Linked DNA regions of Homo sapiens: region 1 is linked to region 2. The links come from fine-mapping of genetic effects on plasma protein levels. A gene starts in region 2. The other region holds a variant in brackets. All regions are shown on one strand. Distances are between the middles of the regions. Region 1 overlaps COL6A3 (collagen type VI alpha 3 chain). Region 2 holds the start of COL6A3 (collagen type VI alpha 3 chain).

The links. A credible set is the group of variants that fine-mapping cannot tell apart. PIP is the chance, under the fine-mapping model, that this variant and not a neighbour inherited with it causes the effect. Sun 2018 read protein levels with aptamers (SomaScan).
Region 1: its variant is the best candidate, but not a certain one, in a credible set for the plasma level of the COL6A3 protein (Sun 2018, PIP 0.53).

The regions. Positions count from the first base shown.
Region 1 is chr2:237,322,378-237,327,746 of GRCh38, reverse strand. COL6A3 (collagen type VI alpha 3 chain) reads left to right here. Exons shown (of 44, transcript NM_004369.4): 43 at 2,023-2,187; 44 at 2,933-3,729. The coding sequence ends at 2,973. Among named protein-coding and RNA genes, the nearest start is that of COL6A3, 89 kb to the left of the region's middle. RefSeq lists an enhancer at 2,040-3,239. The variant C/T (reference allele first, on the strand shown) is at 2,907.
Region 2 is chr2:237,410,767-237,416,135 of GRCh38, reverse strand. COL6A3 (collagen type VI alpha 3 chain) reads left to right here and starts at 1,972. Exons shown (of 44, transcript NM_004369.4): 1 at 1,972-2,183.

The DNA of each region.
Region 1 (5,369 bases), 88 kb after region 2:
TTGCATTAGAAGCCTTCTTAAGAACATAAAATCCTCCGTTTTCATGCTTCAGAAGTAGAGAAGTACAGGTTTTTGTCTTTGAATAGTGCCGGGTTCTCACCTCACTAATATATTTCTCTTGGTTTTCCAAATATCTTCTTGTCCACAGTAACAGTGTCCTTATTTTCCACTAGTAAATCTTACAGGGTCTCAGTAGTGACTCTCACTGAAATAAGGGCAGAAAACACCAGTGCCGTGGTGTGGAACTGGAGGGCTAGGGTGGAGGGCCAAGGAAGCTGGAGAAGCCAATCAGACGGGGAGTGGAGTGTGCTGCTGTGAGGCCACTCATGGGCTGGGTGTCCGTGGCTCTGGGCAGACCTCTCGTGACTGGTTCAGCAGAGCCCAGGGGACTGGGAATTGAACAGCTAAACACAGATGGTCAGGACTGAAGTGCACTTGAAACAAATAAAATAGAGCAAATAGGGTCCATTGGCCAACGCTCTGGGAAGGAAGGAAGAATAGGGAGATCATTTGACGCCGGCCTCACGCTAACAGGGAAGCCACCAGTAAATGAGGAATAAATTTTGATGGTTAAATTACCTTGCCTTGTCAGTTCTCTCCAGGACCTTCCTTGACAGCCAGGCATTTTCCTTCAGTTATTGGCATATTTGAGAGAAAGAAGGTTGTTTTTGTAAATTGTCTTCATTTTATTCTGACTTCCTGGAGTCTTCAAAGGCTCTCGTGGGGACCACTGGCTTTCTGGGCCCTGAGAGCGTCTGCAACTAGGAGGTGTTGTAACTGTGGAGCCACCAGCCACCAGCCTGGAATTTGGGTGACAGCAGCAACCAGGAAATGTTTTAGACCAATTCTGAGCCTCAGTCCTGTGCACCTTTGAGTCTGGTCCATCGTGGGTGATCCAAGCTATGATTATCCACTGAAGACTTAGGTTTTCCTTGTCCTTTTTGGTATCTATCTGAAGCACAGATGCTCACCACCTCCGCAGCTGTGAGCAGCCTGCCTCGCTGGGGACAAAGGAGATGGAGAAGCATCTCTTTGTAGGGGAGAGCTGGATAATTCCAGCCTGTTAGCTACTCACAGGAACATGCAGAATTATTGGCTCCAGGGAGTTTTGGAGAAAGAAGGTTTACGTTTTCAAACTTACAGATAACAGTTGACATCAATGCTTCTCTTTCCCAGAACAATCTGGAGTTTGCCAGAAAACTCTGTAAACAGGAGTCGTGCTGTGTGTGAACTGTAAACTCTTCTCTCCAGGCGTCGAGGGGACCTTTGCTTTACTTTGCAGCTGGGCTACATCAGACGTGTGCATTGGAAACATAAACTTCCTTAACTGGGAAAAGAATGCTTCTCTGTCTTCAAAATAGTTCTGCTATGTGACATTTTTGCCATCATGAATTTTACATCAGTGCTAGCTCTTTGTTTTACGTGTTTCATTTGGCAGGTCACAAAGGCTCTTGGCTACCACACATACGTGCATACACACACACACACACACACACACACACTCATAAAGGATTTTCTTTTCTGCTTTACCTTTAATTTTCAGTCTACTTGGCTTGTAATGAAAGGTAGAGCCTTATTTTTGAACTATATCCCAACAGAATCGAATTTCCATTTTGCCAAGAATTATAAAACCCTGAGGTTTTAAAATTCAGTTTCTTTTCTGGGGATTTAACATGGAAGGACTTGGAGGGCAAATGGCCCAGTGATTGGAAAGGGGAAAAACAATTCATTTCATTTAAAATTATTCAATAACCATTGCCAGCATTTGGGATTCTGAGTGCTGTTTATGAAGCCCTTTCATTGATATAATTTCATCTATCTCTCACAAGGCTGTAAGCAATTCCTATGTCCATATGGCAGTGAGGAAATGGAGATTTGAGCAGGTTAAGGGAGTTTTCACCTGGAAGCTCTTCTTTTTTTTCCTTCTGCCACAGTAGGGTCATCAGACTGTCAGCCCCAGCACTGGGAGCCGAGTAACACGCATGTTCTCATTAATATCCTTTTCTCATGTTTTTATTAAAGATATATGCAAGTTGCCGAAAGACGAAGGAACTTGCAGGGATTTCATATTAAAATGGTACTATGATCCAAACACCAAAAGCTGTGCAAGATTCTGGTATGGAGGTTGTGGTGGAAACGAAAACAAATTTGGATCACAGAAAGAATGTGAAAAGGTTTGCGCTCCTGGTAAGTGATTCTTCCTTGTGTTTATGGCTTCTGCAAATAAGAGATTCAGGTCAATAAGTCACCTTGAAAAATATTAGAAGTGCAATGATTATGATACATGTGAAAAAGAAGATAAAGTGTATCCTCAGATAAGGAAGACGTTCAAATACAACCCATGAAATGTCTTTTTGAATTCCTATTTTGGGTTTCTAAAAACATATTGTCCCTTGTCATTCTTCAGAAATGTTACTAAGTTGCTGTTATTTGTAAAATATTGCACCAAAAATGATTCCTGGGAAGATAATATAATGAACAACTACAGATAACGCCAAAGATAAACAACCCCCACAAATTTATCTTTTAAATAGTTTTGCTTCCTATAAATAACAATGTTGTCACTGGGGCCATCCAGTATCTCCATTATATTGTGCAGTTCAACTGGTAATAAAATAAACACTTTGAACAGAGCCTGGGGTCAGTGCCAGAATGGGGAGAGTTCAGTTCGTATAAAGGCCTGGTAGATGGTGCAGGGCAAAAGAATGGGATCAGATTTCCCAGACATCCCTGGGCCCCGGGGCCCCAGGCCAAGAACGTCACAGAGGGCCTTTGATGGTACTGAGTAGAAAAGTGGGACAGGTGATGGAAACCAGAGGCTGCGGGACTGTGTCATGATAATGACAGTGCCCTTTTGGGTCAGTAATGTGGCTTTTCCTCTCTTCTCTCGGCTCCTCACCTCACCC[C/T]ACCCACCCCCTCTCTCGACGCTCAGTGCTCGCCAAACCCGGAGTCATCAGTGTGATGGGAACCTAAGCGTGGGTGGCCAACATCATATACCTCTTGAAGAAGAAGGAGTCAGCCATCGCCAACTTGTCTCTGTAGAAGCTCCGGGTGTAGATTCCCTTGCACTGTATCATTTCATGCTTTGATTTACACTCGAACTCGGGAGGGAACATCCTGCTGCATGACCTATCAGTATGGTGCTAATGTGTCTGTGGACCCTCGCTCTCTGTCTCCAGGCAGTTCTCTCGAATACTTTGAATGTTGTGTAACAGTTAGCCACTGCTGGTGTTTATGTGAACATTCCTATCAATCCAAATTCCCTCTGGAGTTTCATGTTATGCCTGTTGCAGGCAAATGTAAAGTCTAGAAAATAATGCAAATGTCACGGCTACTCTATATACTTTTGCTTGGTTCATTTTTTTTCCCTTTTAGTTAAGCATGACTTTAGATGGGAAGCCTGTGTATCGTGGAGAAACAAGAGACCAACTTTTTCATTCCCTGCCCCCAATTTCCCAGACTAGATTTCAAGCTAATTTTCTTTTTCTGAAGCCTCTAACAAATGATCTAGTTCAGAAGGAAGCAAAATCCCTTAATCTATGTGCACCGTTGGGACCAATGCCTTAATTAAAGAATTTAAAAAAGTTGTAATAGAGAATATTTTTGGCATTCCTCTAATGTTGTGTGTTTTTTTTTTGTGTGTGCTGGAGGGAGGGGATTTAATTTTAATTTTAAAATGTTTAGGAAATTTATACAAAGAAACTTTTTAATAAAGTATATTGAAAGTTTCCTGGGTGTGACGTTCTTGGCAGTCTTGTTTCCATAGCAGCGATTGTCAGAATCACCCCTAGGCTGGGGAAACTGGGTTTGGTTCTGGCCCCATGGAGCTGTGCAACAGCCTTTCGTTTCCAGTGGAGGAGGCAAAAGAGCTTTATCAGCCAGTGTGCAAAGAGACCGGCTGGAGACAAGCATCCCCCGCTTTGTGGATTCAGCCCCACATGCTCCAGTGCTCCATGGCCGAGCGGAAGGTGTTCCTGCTGTTGGGTCCCGGCAGTGTTTCTGATTTTCAGAGTCAGGCTGGCTTCTATCTTTTCCTCTGACTCTTGGTTGGCCCTCAGAGCCTCAGCCTCCTCCTGTCTTCCTCTCCACAGTGATCCTTTCCCAGGGGGTTGATTTGCTTCCTCTCACAATGGCTGAGAGATTCAGTGTTGCCCCACGACCCCCAACCCCTTTTCTGGAGTCTCAAAGCACAAGGTCTTTCATTTTTTTGTTTTTCTTAAAGACTGTTTTTTTCTCTCTTCAGAAATAATACAAGAAACCAACAAATACATATTCAGGTGGCACTTGAGTTCCACTTACAAAGGAAACAACTTATTGGATAAAATACATATGTCCTGACAAGTGCTGAGGGTAGAATTACAGGAATCTTGGGTGTCAGCAGAAATGTTTTATGTAAAATCGGGATGAATTTGCCAGTTGGTCTATTGGGAAAGGAGAGAGGAGTGTGGCCCTCTTCAGAAGCGCCACTTAGTCCCCACAAGGTCGCCATGACCTCCTCCCCAGTCCTCTTCTATCTCGGCAGCTACCATGGGGTGCTCAGGTCAGTGTGCTCTGAGCTGTGACCCTTGGTGACCAACCCTGGGATCTGCCAGGCACCCAACACCAGCCTCTTGCAGGAACTTGCGGAGCAGAGAGCTGTGGGCCCAGCTCCCATAGCGGTGGGCTGAGTGCTCCACTTCCCAAGGGATCCCTGCCCCCGCCACCCCCATTGACTTGATCTGCTATGGACCTAAAATGAGCATCACAATCTGGTTTTACTTTTTGGGTTCCTCCGGAAGCAGCCCTTAGGACTAAGGATATGGGTGTGAGTAGTTTATTTGGGAGGTGAAGGAAGTCACTGAGTGGCTGAGAAGTGGGGAGTGAGACAAGCAAAGGGAGAGCACTGTTAAGAGGTGTATAGTCAGCGTCCACTGTGGGTGCCCAGAGCCCAATCCCTCGGGGAAACCCTGGGAGGTGCACCTGTGGCACTGCACCTCGTAGGCCAGCAGAGGGCTGAAGGAGTTTGGGTAGTCATACACCTGTTTCCACGGGTCACTGAGGCATTCATGCTCTGGTCCTCTTGGCTTGCAGGCACACTGGCAAAGGGGCCTTCTGTAGTGTAAGAAAATGTTCTTGGCAAAGACCTGCAGATACTCCCATGTGGAACTTGGGGGAGTAGTCAGGCCCAAGGTACAGGAGTAGGACACCAATATTTGTAACATACCTAGATGGTCTGCTCAAGGTGTGTTACAATAGACTGGGGCAGGGCCCATCACTAGGAGACTCACTTCCAAGGGCTCCAGAACCCTCTCTCCCTTTCCACCTCCTGTTGCCAGCATGCCCATCCCTGCCATTCTTGGTTCACTCTATCTATGCATTGCTTCTCTGTG
Region 2 (5,369 bases):
AGTGGAAACACCTAAAACGTGCTTGTTCAGTTAACCTCAGTTTGCTGAGCTGCTTGGAGCATGGGGTTGTAATCAAAGATTGTCTTCTTCGCAGCAGACAATGTTCTGGGAGAAATAGTCCTCCTTAGTGCTGAAGTTGCAGACTCTAACCAAGGGGGTGGCAGCAAGTATCCCCGGTCTCTGTAGGGGCTTGAGTCAACGCCTGCACTGTGCAGAGAGGATGAGGGCAGAGAATTGGATGCCGCTGGAGGGGCGTGTTGTCCTTCTACATGTCATGCAGGCAGCGCGGTTCTATACTCGGAGCCTCTGCTCAGCGTGTCTTCACCTAAGAACCCCATAATTCAGGTTCCATCCTTGTTCCCTACTCCAGTGCTCTGCAAGTGAGCCCTTTGGTTTAGAGATGGGTTGGGCTTCTTTATGGGAGAGGAAGGGAGCCCTGGAGCTGCAGAGGGGAGCAGGCATTCTCTCTGGGGTGCTGTCTCCTTTCTTCCCTAAATTGGAGGGAGATAATCCATGGAAAGGAGTTAATGATTTCTTTGCTCTTCAAACTTGGTTTGGAAGGATCTCTCAGTCAAAAAGAACCTTTCGGATGTCTCTTGATATTTCACATTAATGGACTTTTCATAAGGACCACATGATGGGAGAGCAGTGAGAAGTTTGGGGATGGCCAAAGCTGGGTTGTCATTTGAGCTCTGTTACTAACCCAGACTGGACAATGACGATGTCACTTACTCTCTCGGAACTTCTTTTCTTTTCTTCTTTTCTTTTCTTTTTTTCTTTTTTCTCTTCTCTTCTCTTCTCTTCTCTTCTCTTCTCTTCTTTTCTTTTCATTTCTTTTCTTTCTTTCCTTTTTCTCTTTTTTGGAGTCTCACTCTGTTGCCCAGGCTAGAGTGCAGTGGCGCCATCTCGGCTCACTGCAACCTCTGCCTCCTGGGTTCAAGCAATTGTCCTGCCTCAGCCTCCCAAATAGCTGGGACTACAAGCGCCTGCCACCATGCCTGGCTAATTTTTATATTTTTAGTAGAGATTTAGTAGGGGTTTCACCATGTTGGCCAGGCTGGTCTCCAACTCCTGACCTTGTGATCTGCCTGCCTTAGCCTCCCGAAGTGCTGAGATTACAGGCATAAGCCACCGTGCCCAGCCTGTTTCTTTCATCTGTAAAATGGGACCACAATTTCACCTAATAAAAGAAGACATCTTTCTATTTAAAAGGGCTTAGGGTGTTGATGTTTGTGATAAAGGAGAGAATGTATATTGAAGTGTTTTGAAATGTGCAAAGCTTTCTAGAAACAGAAGTTCTTACTCAAGTATTTTCCCGAAGCTTTGGCAAGATAACCATTTTTATTACCCCGTCTGTGCCTAGAATGGGCCTATAAGCGCCACAATCAGAATCATTAGATATAGAAATTAAGAGAAATGTAGCCTCCTTTTTTTTGCCGGTGAACAGAGCTTTGGTTAACAGAAAACCAAGGCGATTTTAATTGCTGGTTTTTCTATTTGAAGGGGGAAGTTATTAGTAGAAGTCTCAATTCAGAAACTTCAAGAAGAAATGGGAGGGTGTGGTGAGGGTAAGCGGGGGACTGCATTTCCTGTTTTCCTTTCAGATGGTGTTGGAAAACATTGCAGGAAAACCATGGATACCCACGAAGAAATTCCAAAATTTATTCTTTTTGACGCCAAGGGCCCAGCCCAAAAGGTGACGAGTAGGAGTGGTCAATTTTTTTTTTTAAGAGTTGGGGCTTGCAGGAGTCCAGCTAAACGCTTGTAGGGTGAAGACAGAATTCAGAGGGTGACATCAGCCTGAGCGGGGGCCAGAAGAAACAGAGTGGAGGAGTCTGGTTTCATTTACAGTTTTGGGTCAGTTCTGCAGTGAGGAGGGGGAGAGGAGGGGTCCGGGAGGGAGGAGGAGGAGGAGGAGGAGCTGGAGGAAGCCCTGACTGGTATCCCTGGCCCCAGTCCAGTTTGGAGCTCAGTCTTCCACCAAAGGCCGTTCAGTTCTCCTGGGCTCCAGCCTCCTGCAAGGACTGCAAGAGTTTTCCTCCGCAGCTCTGAGTCTCCACTTTTTTGGTGGAGAAAGGCTGCAAAAAGAAAAAGAGACGCAGTGAGTGGGAAAAGTATGCATCCTATTCAAACCTAATTGAATCGAGGAGCCCAGGGACACACGCCTTCAGGTTTGCTCAGGGGTAAGTGTGATTTCTCTTCTGTTTTTCCAGGTTTGGGGCTAGAAGGAAATGCTCTTAACCTGAAGTGATCCTTTCTAGGTAGCGTTAGTGGCTCTTACGTTCATGCTGATCGCCAGTTTTCTGTACATGTTTTAGGTCTCTGGAAGATTCCGCTGATTTTTCTTTCTCACTTTATGGCAATGGGATTTCCTTAAATTGGTTAAGGTCATGATTGCCTAAGAGTGTGAGCACTTTTCCACCGCGTGTCTGTGGCTGCTACACGCGCCCTGTGCATTCCGGGCGGCAGTGTGTTTCGGCCCATGATTTATTTAAGTTACTGCCGCCTTCTAAAACCCATTCGGGATCCGCTTTGTTTGCAGAAGCGTCTTTGCTGAGGACTAGCATAGCTCCCTGCCGGGCGGCTCCGCTGGGAGATGTTCTCTGAGCTCTCTGGGTGGTGACACTAGGTCAGGGTGCAACAACCTGCATGGGTTTTCTGCCCAGGGCCGCCCATGGGAAGGTCCTGGTGGAGCACATTTGCTGCTTTCACAAGATTGGAGTAACTCTGGTGCTCAGGATCAGGGCCAAGTAAAGGGTCGCTCAGTCATTGCCGTCAAGCTTTCGTCTTTCCAGGAACCTGAAGTCTCTATTGGAGACTTTGTCCCTTGGGGTTGCTTAAAGGAGTTGCAGGGGTCAGAGGAGAAGAAGGAATTGGGCATTTGGGCAGCATGCTGAGTGTCTAAGGCAGGGCCCCTGGGGCTGCAGGGCCAGCCCATGCTGCACAGAGGTGAGGCCAGTGCCGAGCTGGGAGGCCCCGAGGGCTGTTCTCTGGCCCGGAGGATGCAGGGTGGGGCTCGGGCCCTCTCTTGCTGAGGATGGACACGTTCGCTGACAGTGGCCAGCCTGTTTGGGGAACCTGTTTCAAGGGGCCTACTATGTTGGATAATGAACGGGTATTGAAGTATGGGTGGGGTCACTGGGAGGGACTAGGGAGTGGTTAAAGAAAAATCTGCTTCCACAGGAAGCCCCAGGAGCCAGTTTCGAGGCCGGTGCAGACCCCAGGAGCAAACCCCTCTGAGCACAGGGGAGTCTGCTGTGCTGGATGGGGAGGCAGGGCTGTGGCCCCGGCTGACTGGCTTCTCTCCCCACATACAGCTCACCCCGGCGAGGACCACAGGGTGCTAGAGCTGCAGGGTGCTCAGAGCTCACGGGGATGGTGGATGCTCAACCTGGGATCCCCCAGCTCCCCAGGGTCCCATTCTTAATGCTGTAAAAAACAACCGAAATGGCTTTAAAATCAAAGTTACATTGCTCCTAAGCAAAACTATATTGAAAACTGAGTGGGTGGCCGTTGATGACATTACTGGGACTTCTGAGGTTTTTGTTGGGCTAAAGATAATGGAAGAGATTTTTGGTCAGAAGCCACTGATGCAGTAGTTTCCTGGTTTTCAAAATGAGCAACCAGGGGCTCTGAGATGCGGAATTCCTTGCCCAGGCCAGGGAGCGAGTGCCTGAGATGGCAGTGAAATCCTTCCCCATTGAAGGAGAGCAGACAAGCCAGTGACGGAGGATCCCAAATAACTCACATCTCGTTGGGAAAACTGCTTTGGGCTCACTAAGACTCTACCAATGAACCGAGAAAGAAGGGAGGTGGACCGTGGGGCGGGGGCATCGGTTCCGTGACCGGAATACCGGGGCTGGCCGCCCTGCTCAGGCCACCTCCTGGGGGTGGAGGGCGCTGAAGGAGGGGACCTGTATGCTCTTCTTTCTGAAGTGGGCTTGTAGCTGAGGATGAAAGCCTGGGTGGGGAGGCGTGGCTTTTACAAAGATCAGGATGTAGGAACAGCTGCCTGTCTGGACTTCTTTGTTTAGGGGGTTTCTTGCTACCCAGAGGTTTAGTTCTCTCCTTTCCTCACTCATGGTCGAGAGAAGCCAGGAAGCAGACACTGAGTGGAGCAGAGGGCTTGGGAAGGAATTCCATGTTGGGGTGAAGTGAGGCTGTCCTGGCTTTTCCTATCCAGGCATTGGAGGGTGTGGCTACAGCACCTTTCTGGGAGGTGGCTGGGGAAGCCTCTAGAATGTTAGCCCTTGGCCCCGCTCTTTCCCTGCTTGGCAGGGAGCGTGTTCCACCCCACTATAGTTGTGGCCCACAGGTGAGGGGACATGTGGCAAATGTCCAAACCTGGGGTCTGAATGATATTTTTGATACGAGGTAGGCACCTTTCTGAAAAATTGTCTTTACTTCACACTTCATTTTATTTCTAAAGCATTCAGGACTCAGCAAATTGCACTGACTTTATCATCAGTGCCTTTTGTGATTTCCTATCCTAGAACTTAATACGTCCCCGATGAGAAAGTAGGAAGAAGCTCCTCTCTTCAGTCGATTGTTGATTTATGGTTCCAATGAGGCTGCTCATCCTGACCTTAGTTTCAGGAACGGAACCCATAGACCTGGATGCCTAAAGCCAGCTTGAAACAAGACCGCCTTCTTTGGAAGCTTTGGAAGCTGGCAGTGACTTTTTGCCAGCGAGGTTTCATTTGTTTCCTTGCTCAGAGTGTTCAGACAACTGGATCAAGCGTAGTCTTCACCAGCGGTTGATATCACCTCCCACTTATATGTGAAATTCCATGTTTAGGACTTAAAATTCACCGGCAAGTCGTGAATACTATTGCGTGACACTTCCTTGCAGGCGCAGTAACAGCTTTAGCAAAAATTTTTATTTGAAAGTTCAGTTTTGTCACTGCTCTTTTTGGAAGAAGCTGAAAATCTGCTATCTCTTGGGGGAAGGATTGCAGGCGGTTTCCATCTGACAGGGATGTTGTGTACCAGGCAGCTTTTCCACCCTGACTTACGGGAGCAAACTTTTCATGGTGTCCTGGCTGCAGCAAGCAGGCAGTAAAAAACACATCACTGCTACATAAATAGCTGACGATTTGAGGAGGGACCTGACATTTAAAGAAAATCCTATTAGCTCTAGCTAAGAAAATGAAAGCCGCAAACCCTCCAAATTTTAAAGTGGGGGAGCTTTAAAGTTTCCTACTAATTCAGACAGCCATGAACTAGACAAGAATGGTTATCTTCATTCTCCCGTTTCTAGATACAGCTTCTCTGTTTCCACTGTAAAACTTCAGTGGAATTCAGTGTAAAAATTCAGTGCAAAGAAAGGACAATCCTATTCTTTAAATAAAACATGTTGCTTGCCCCCT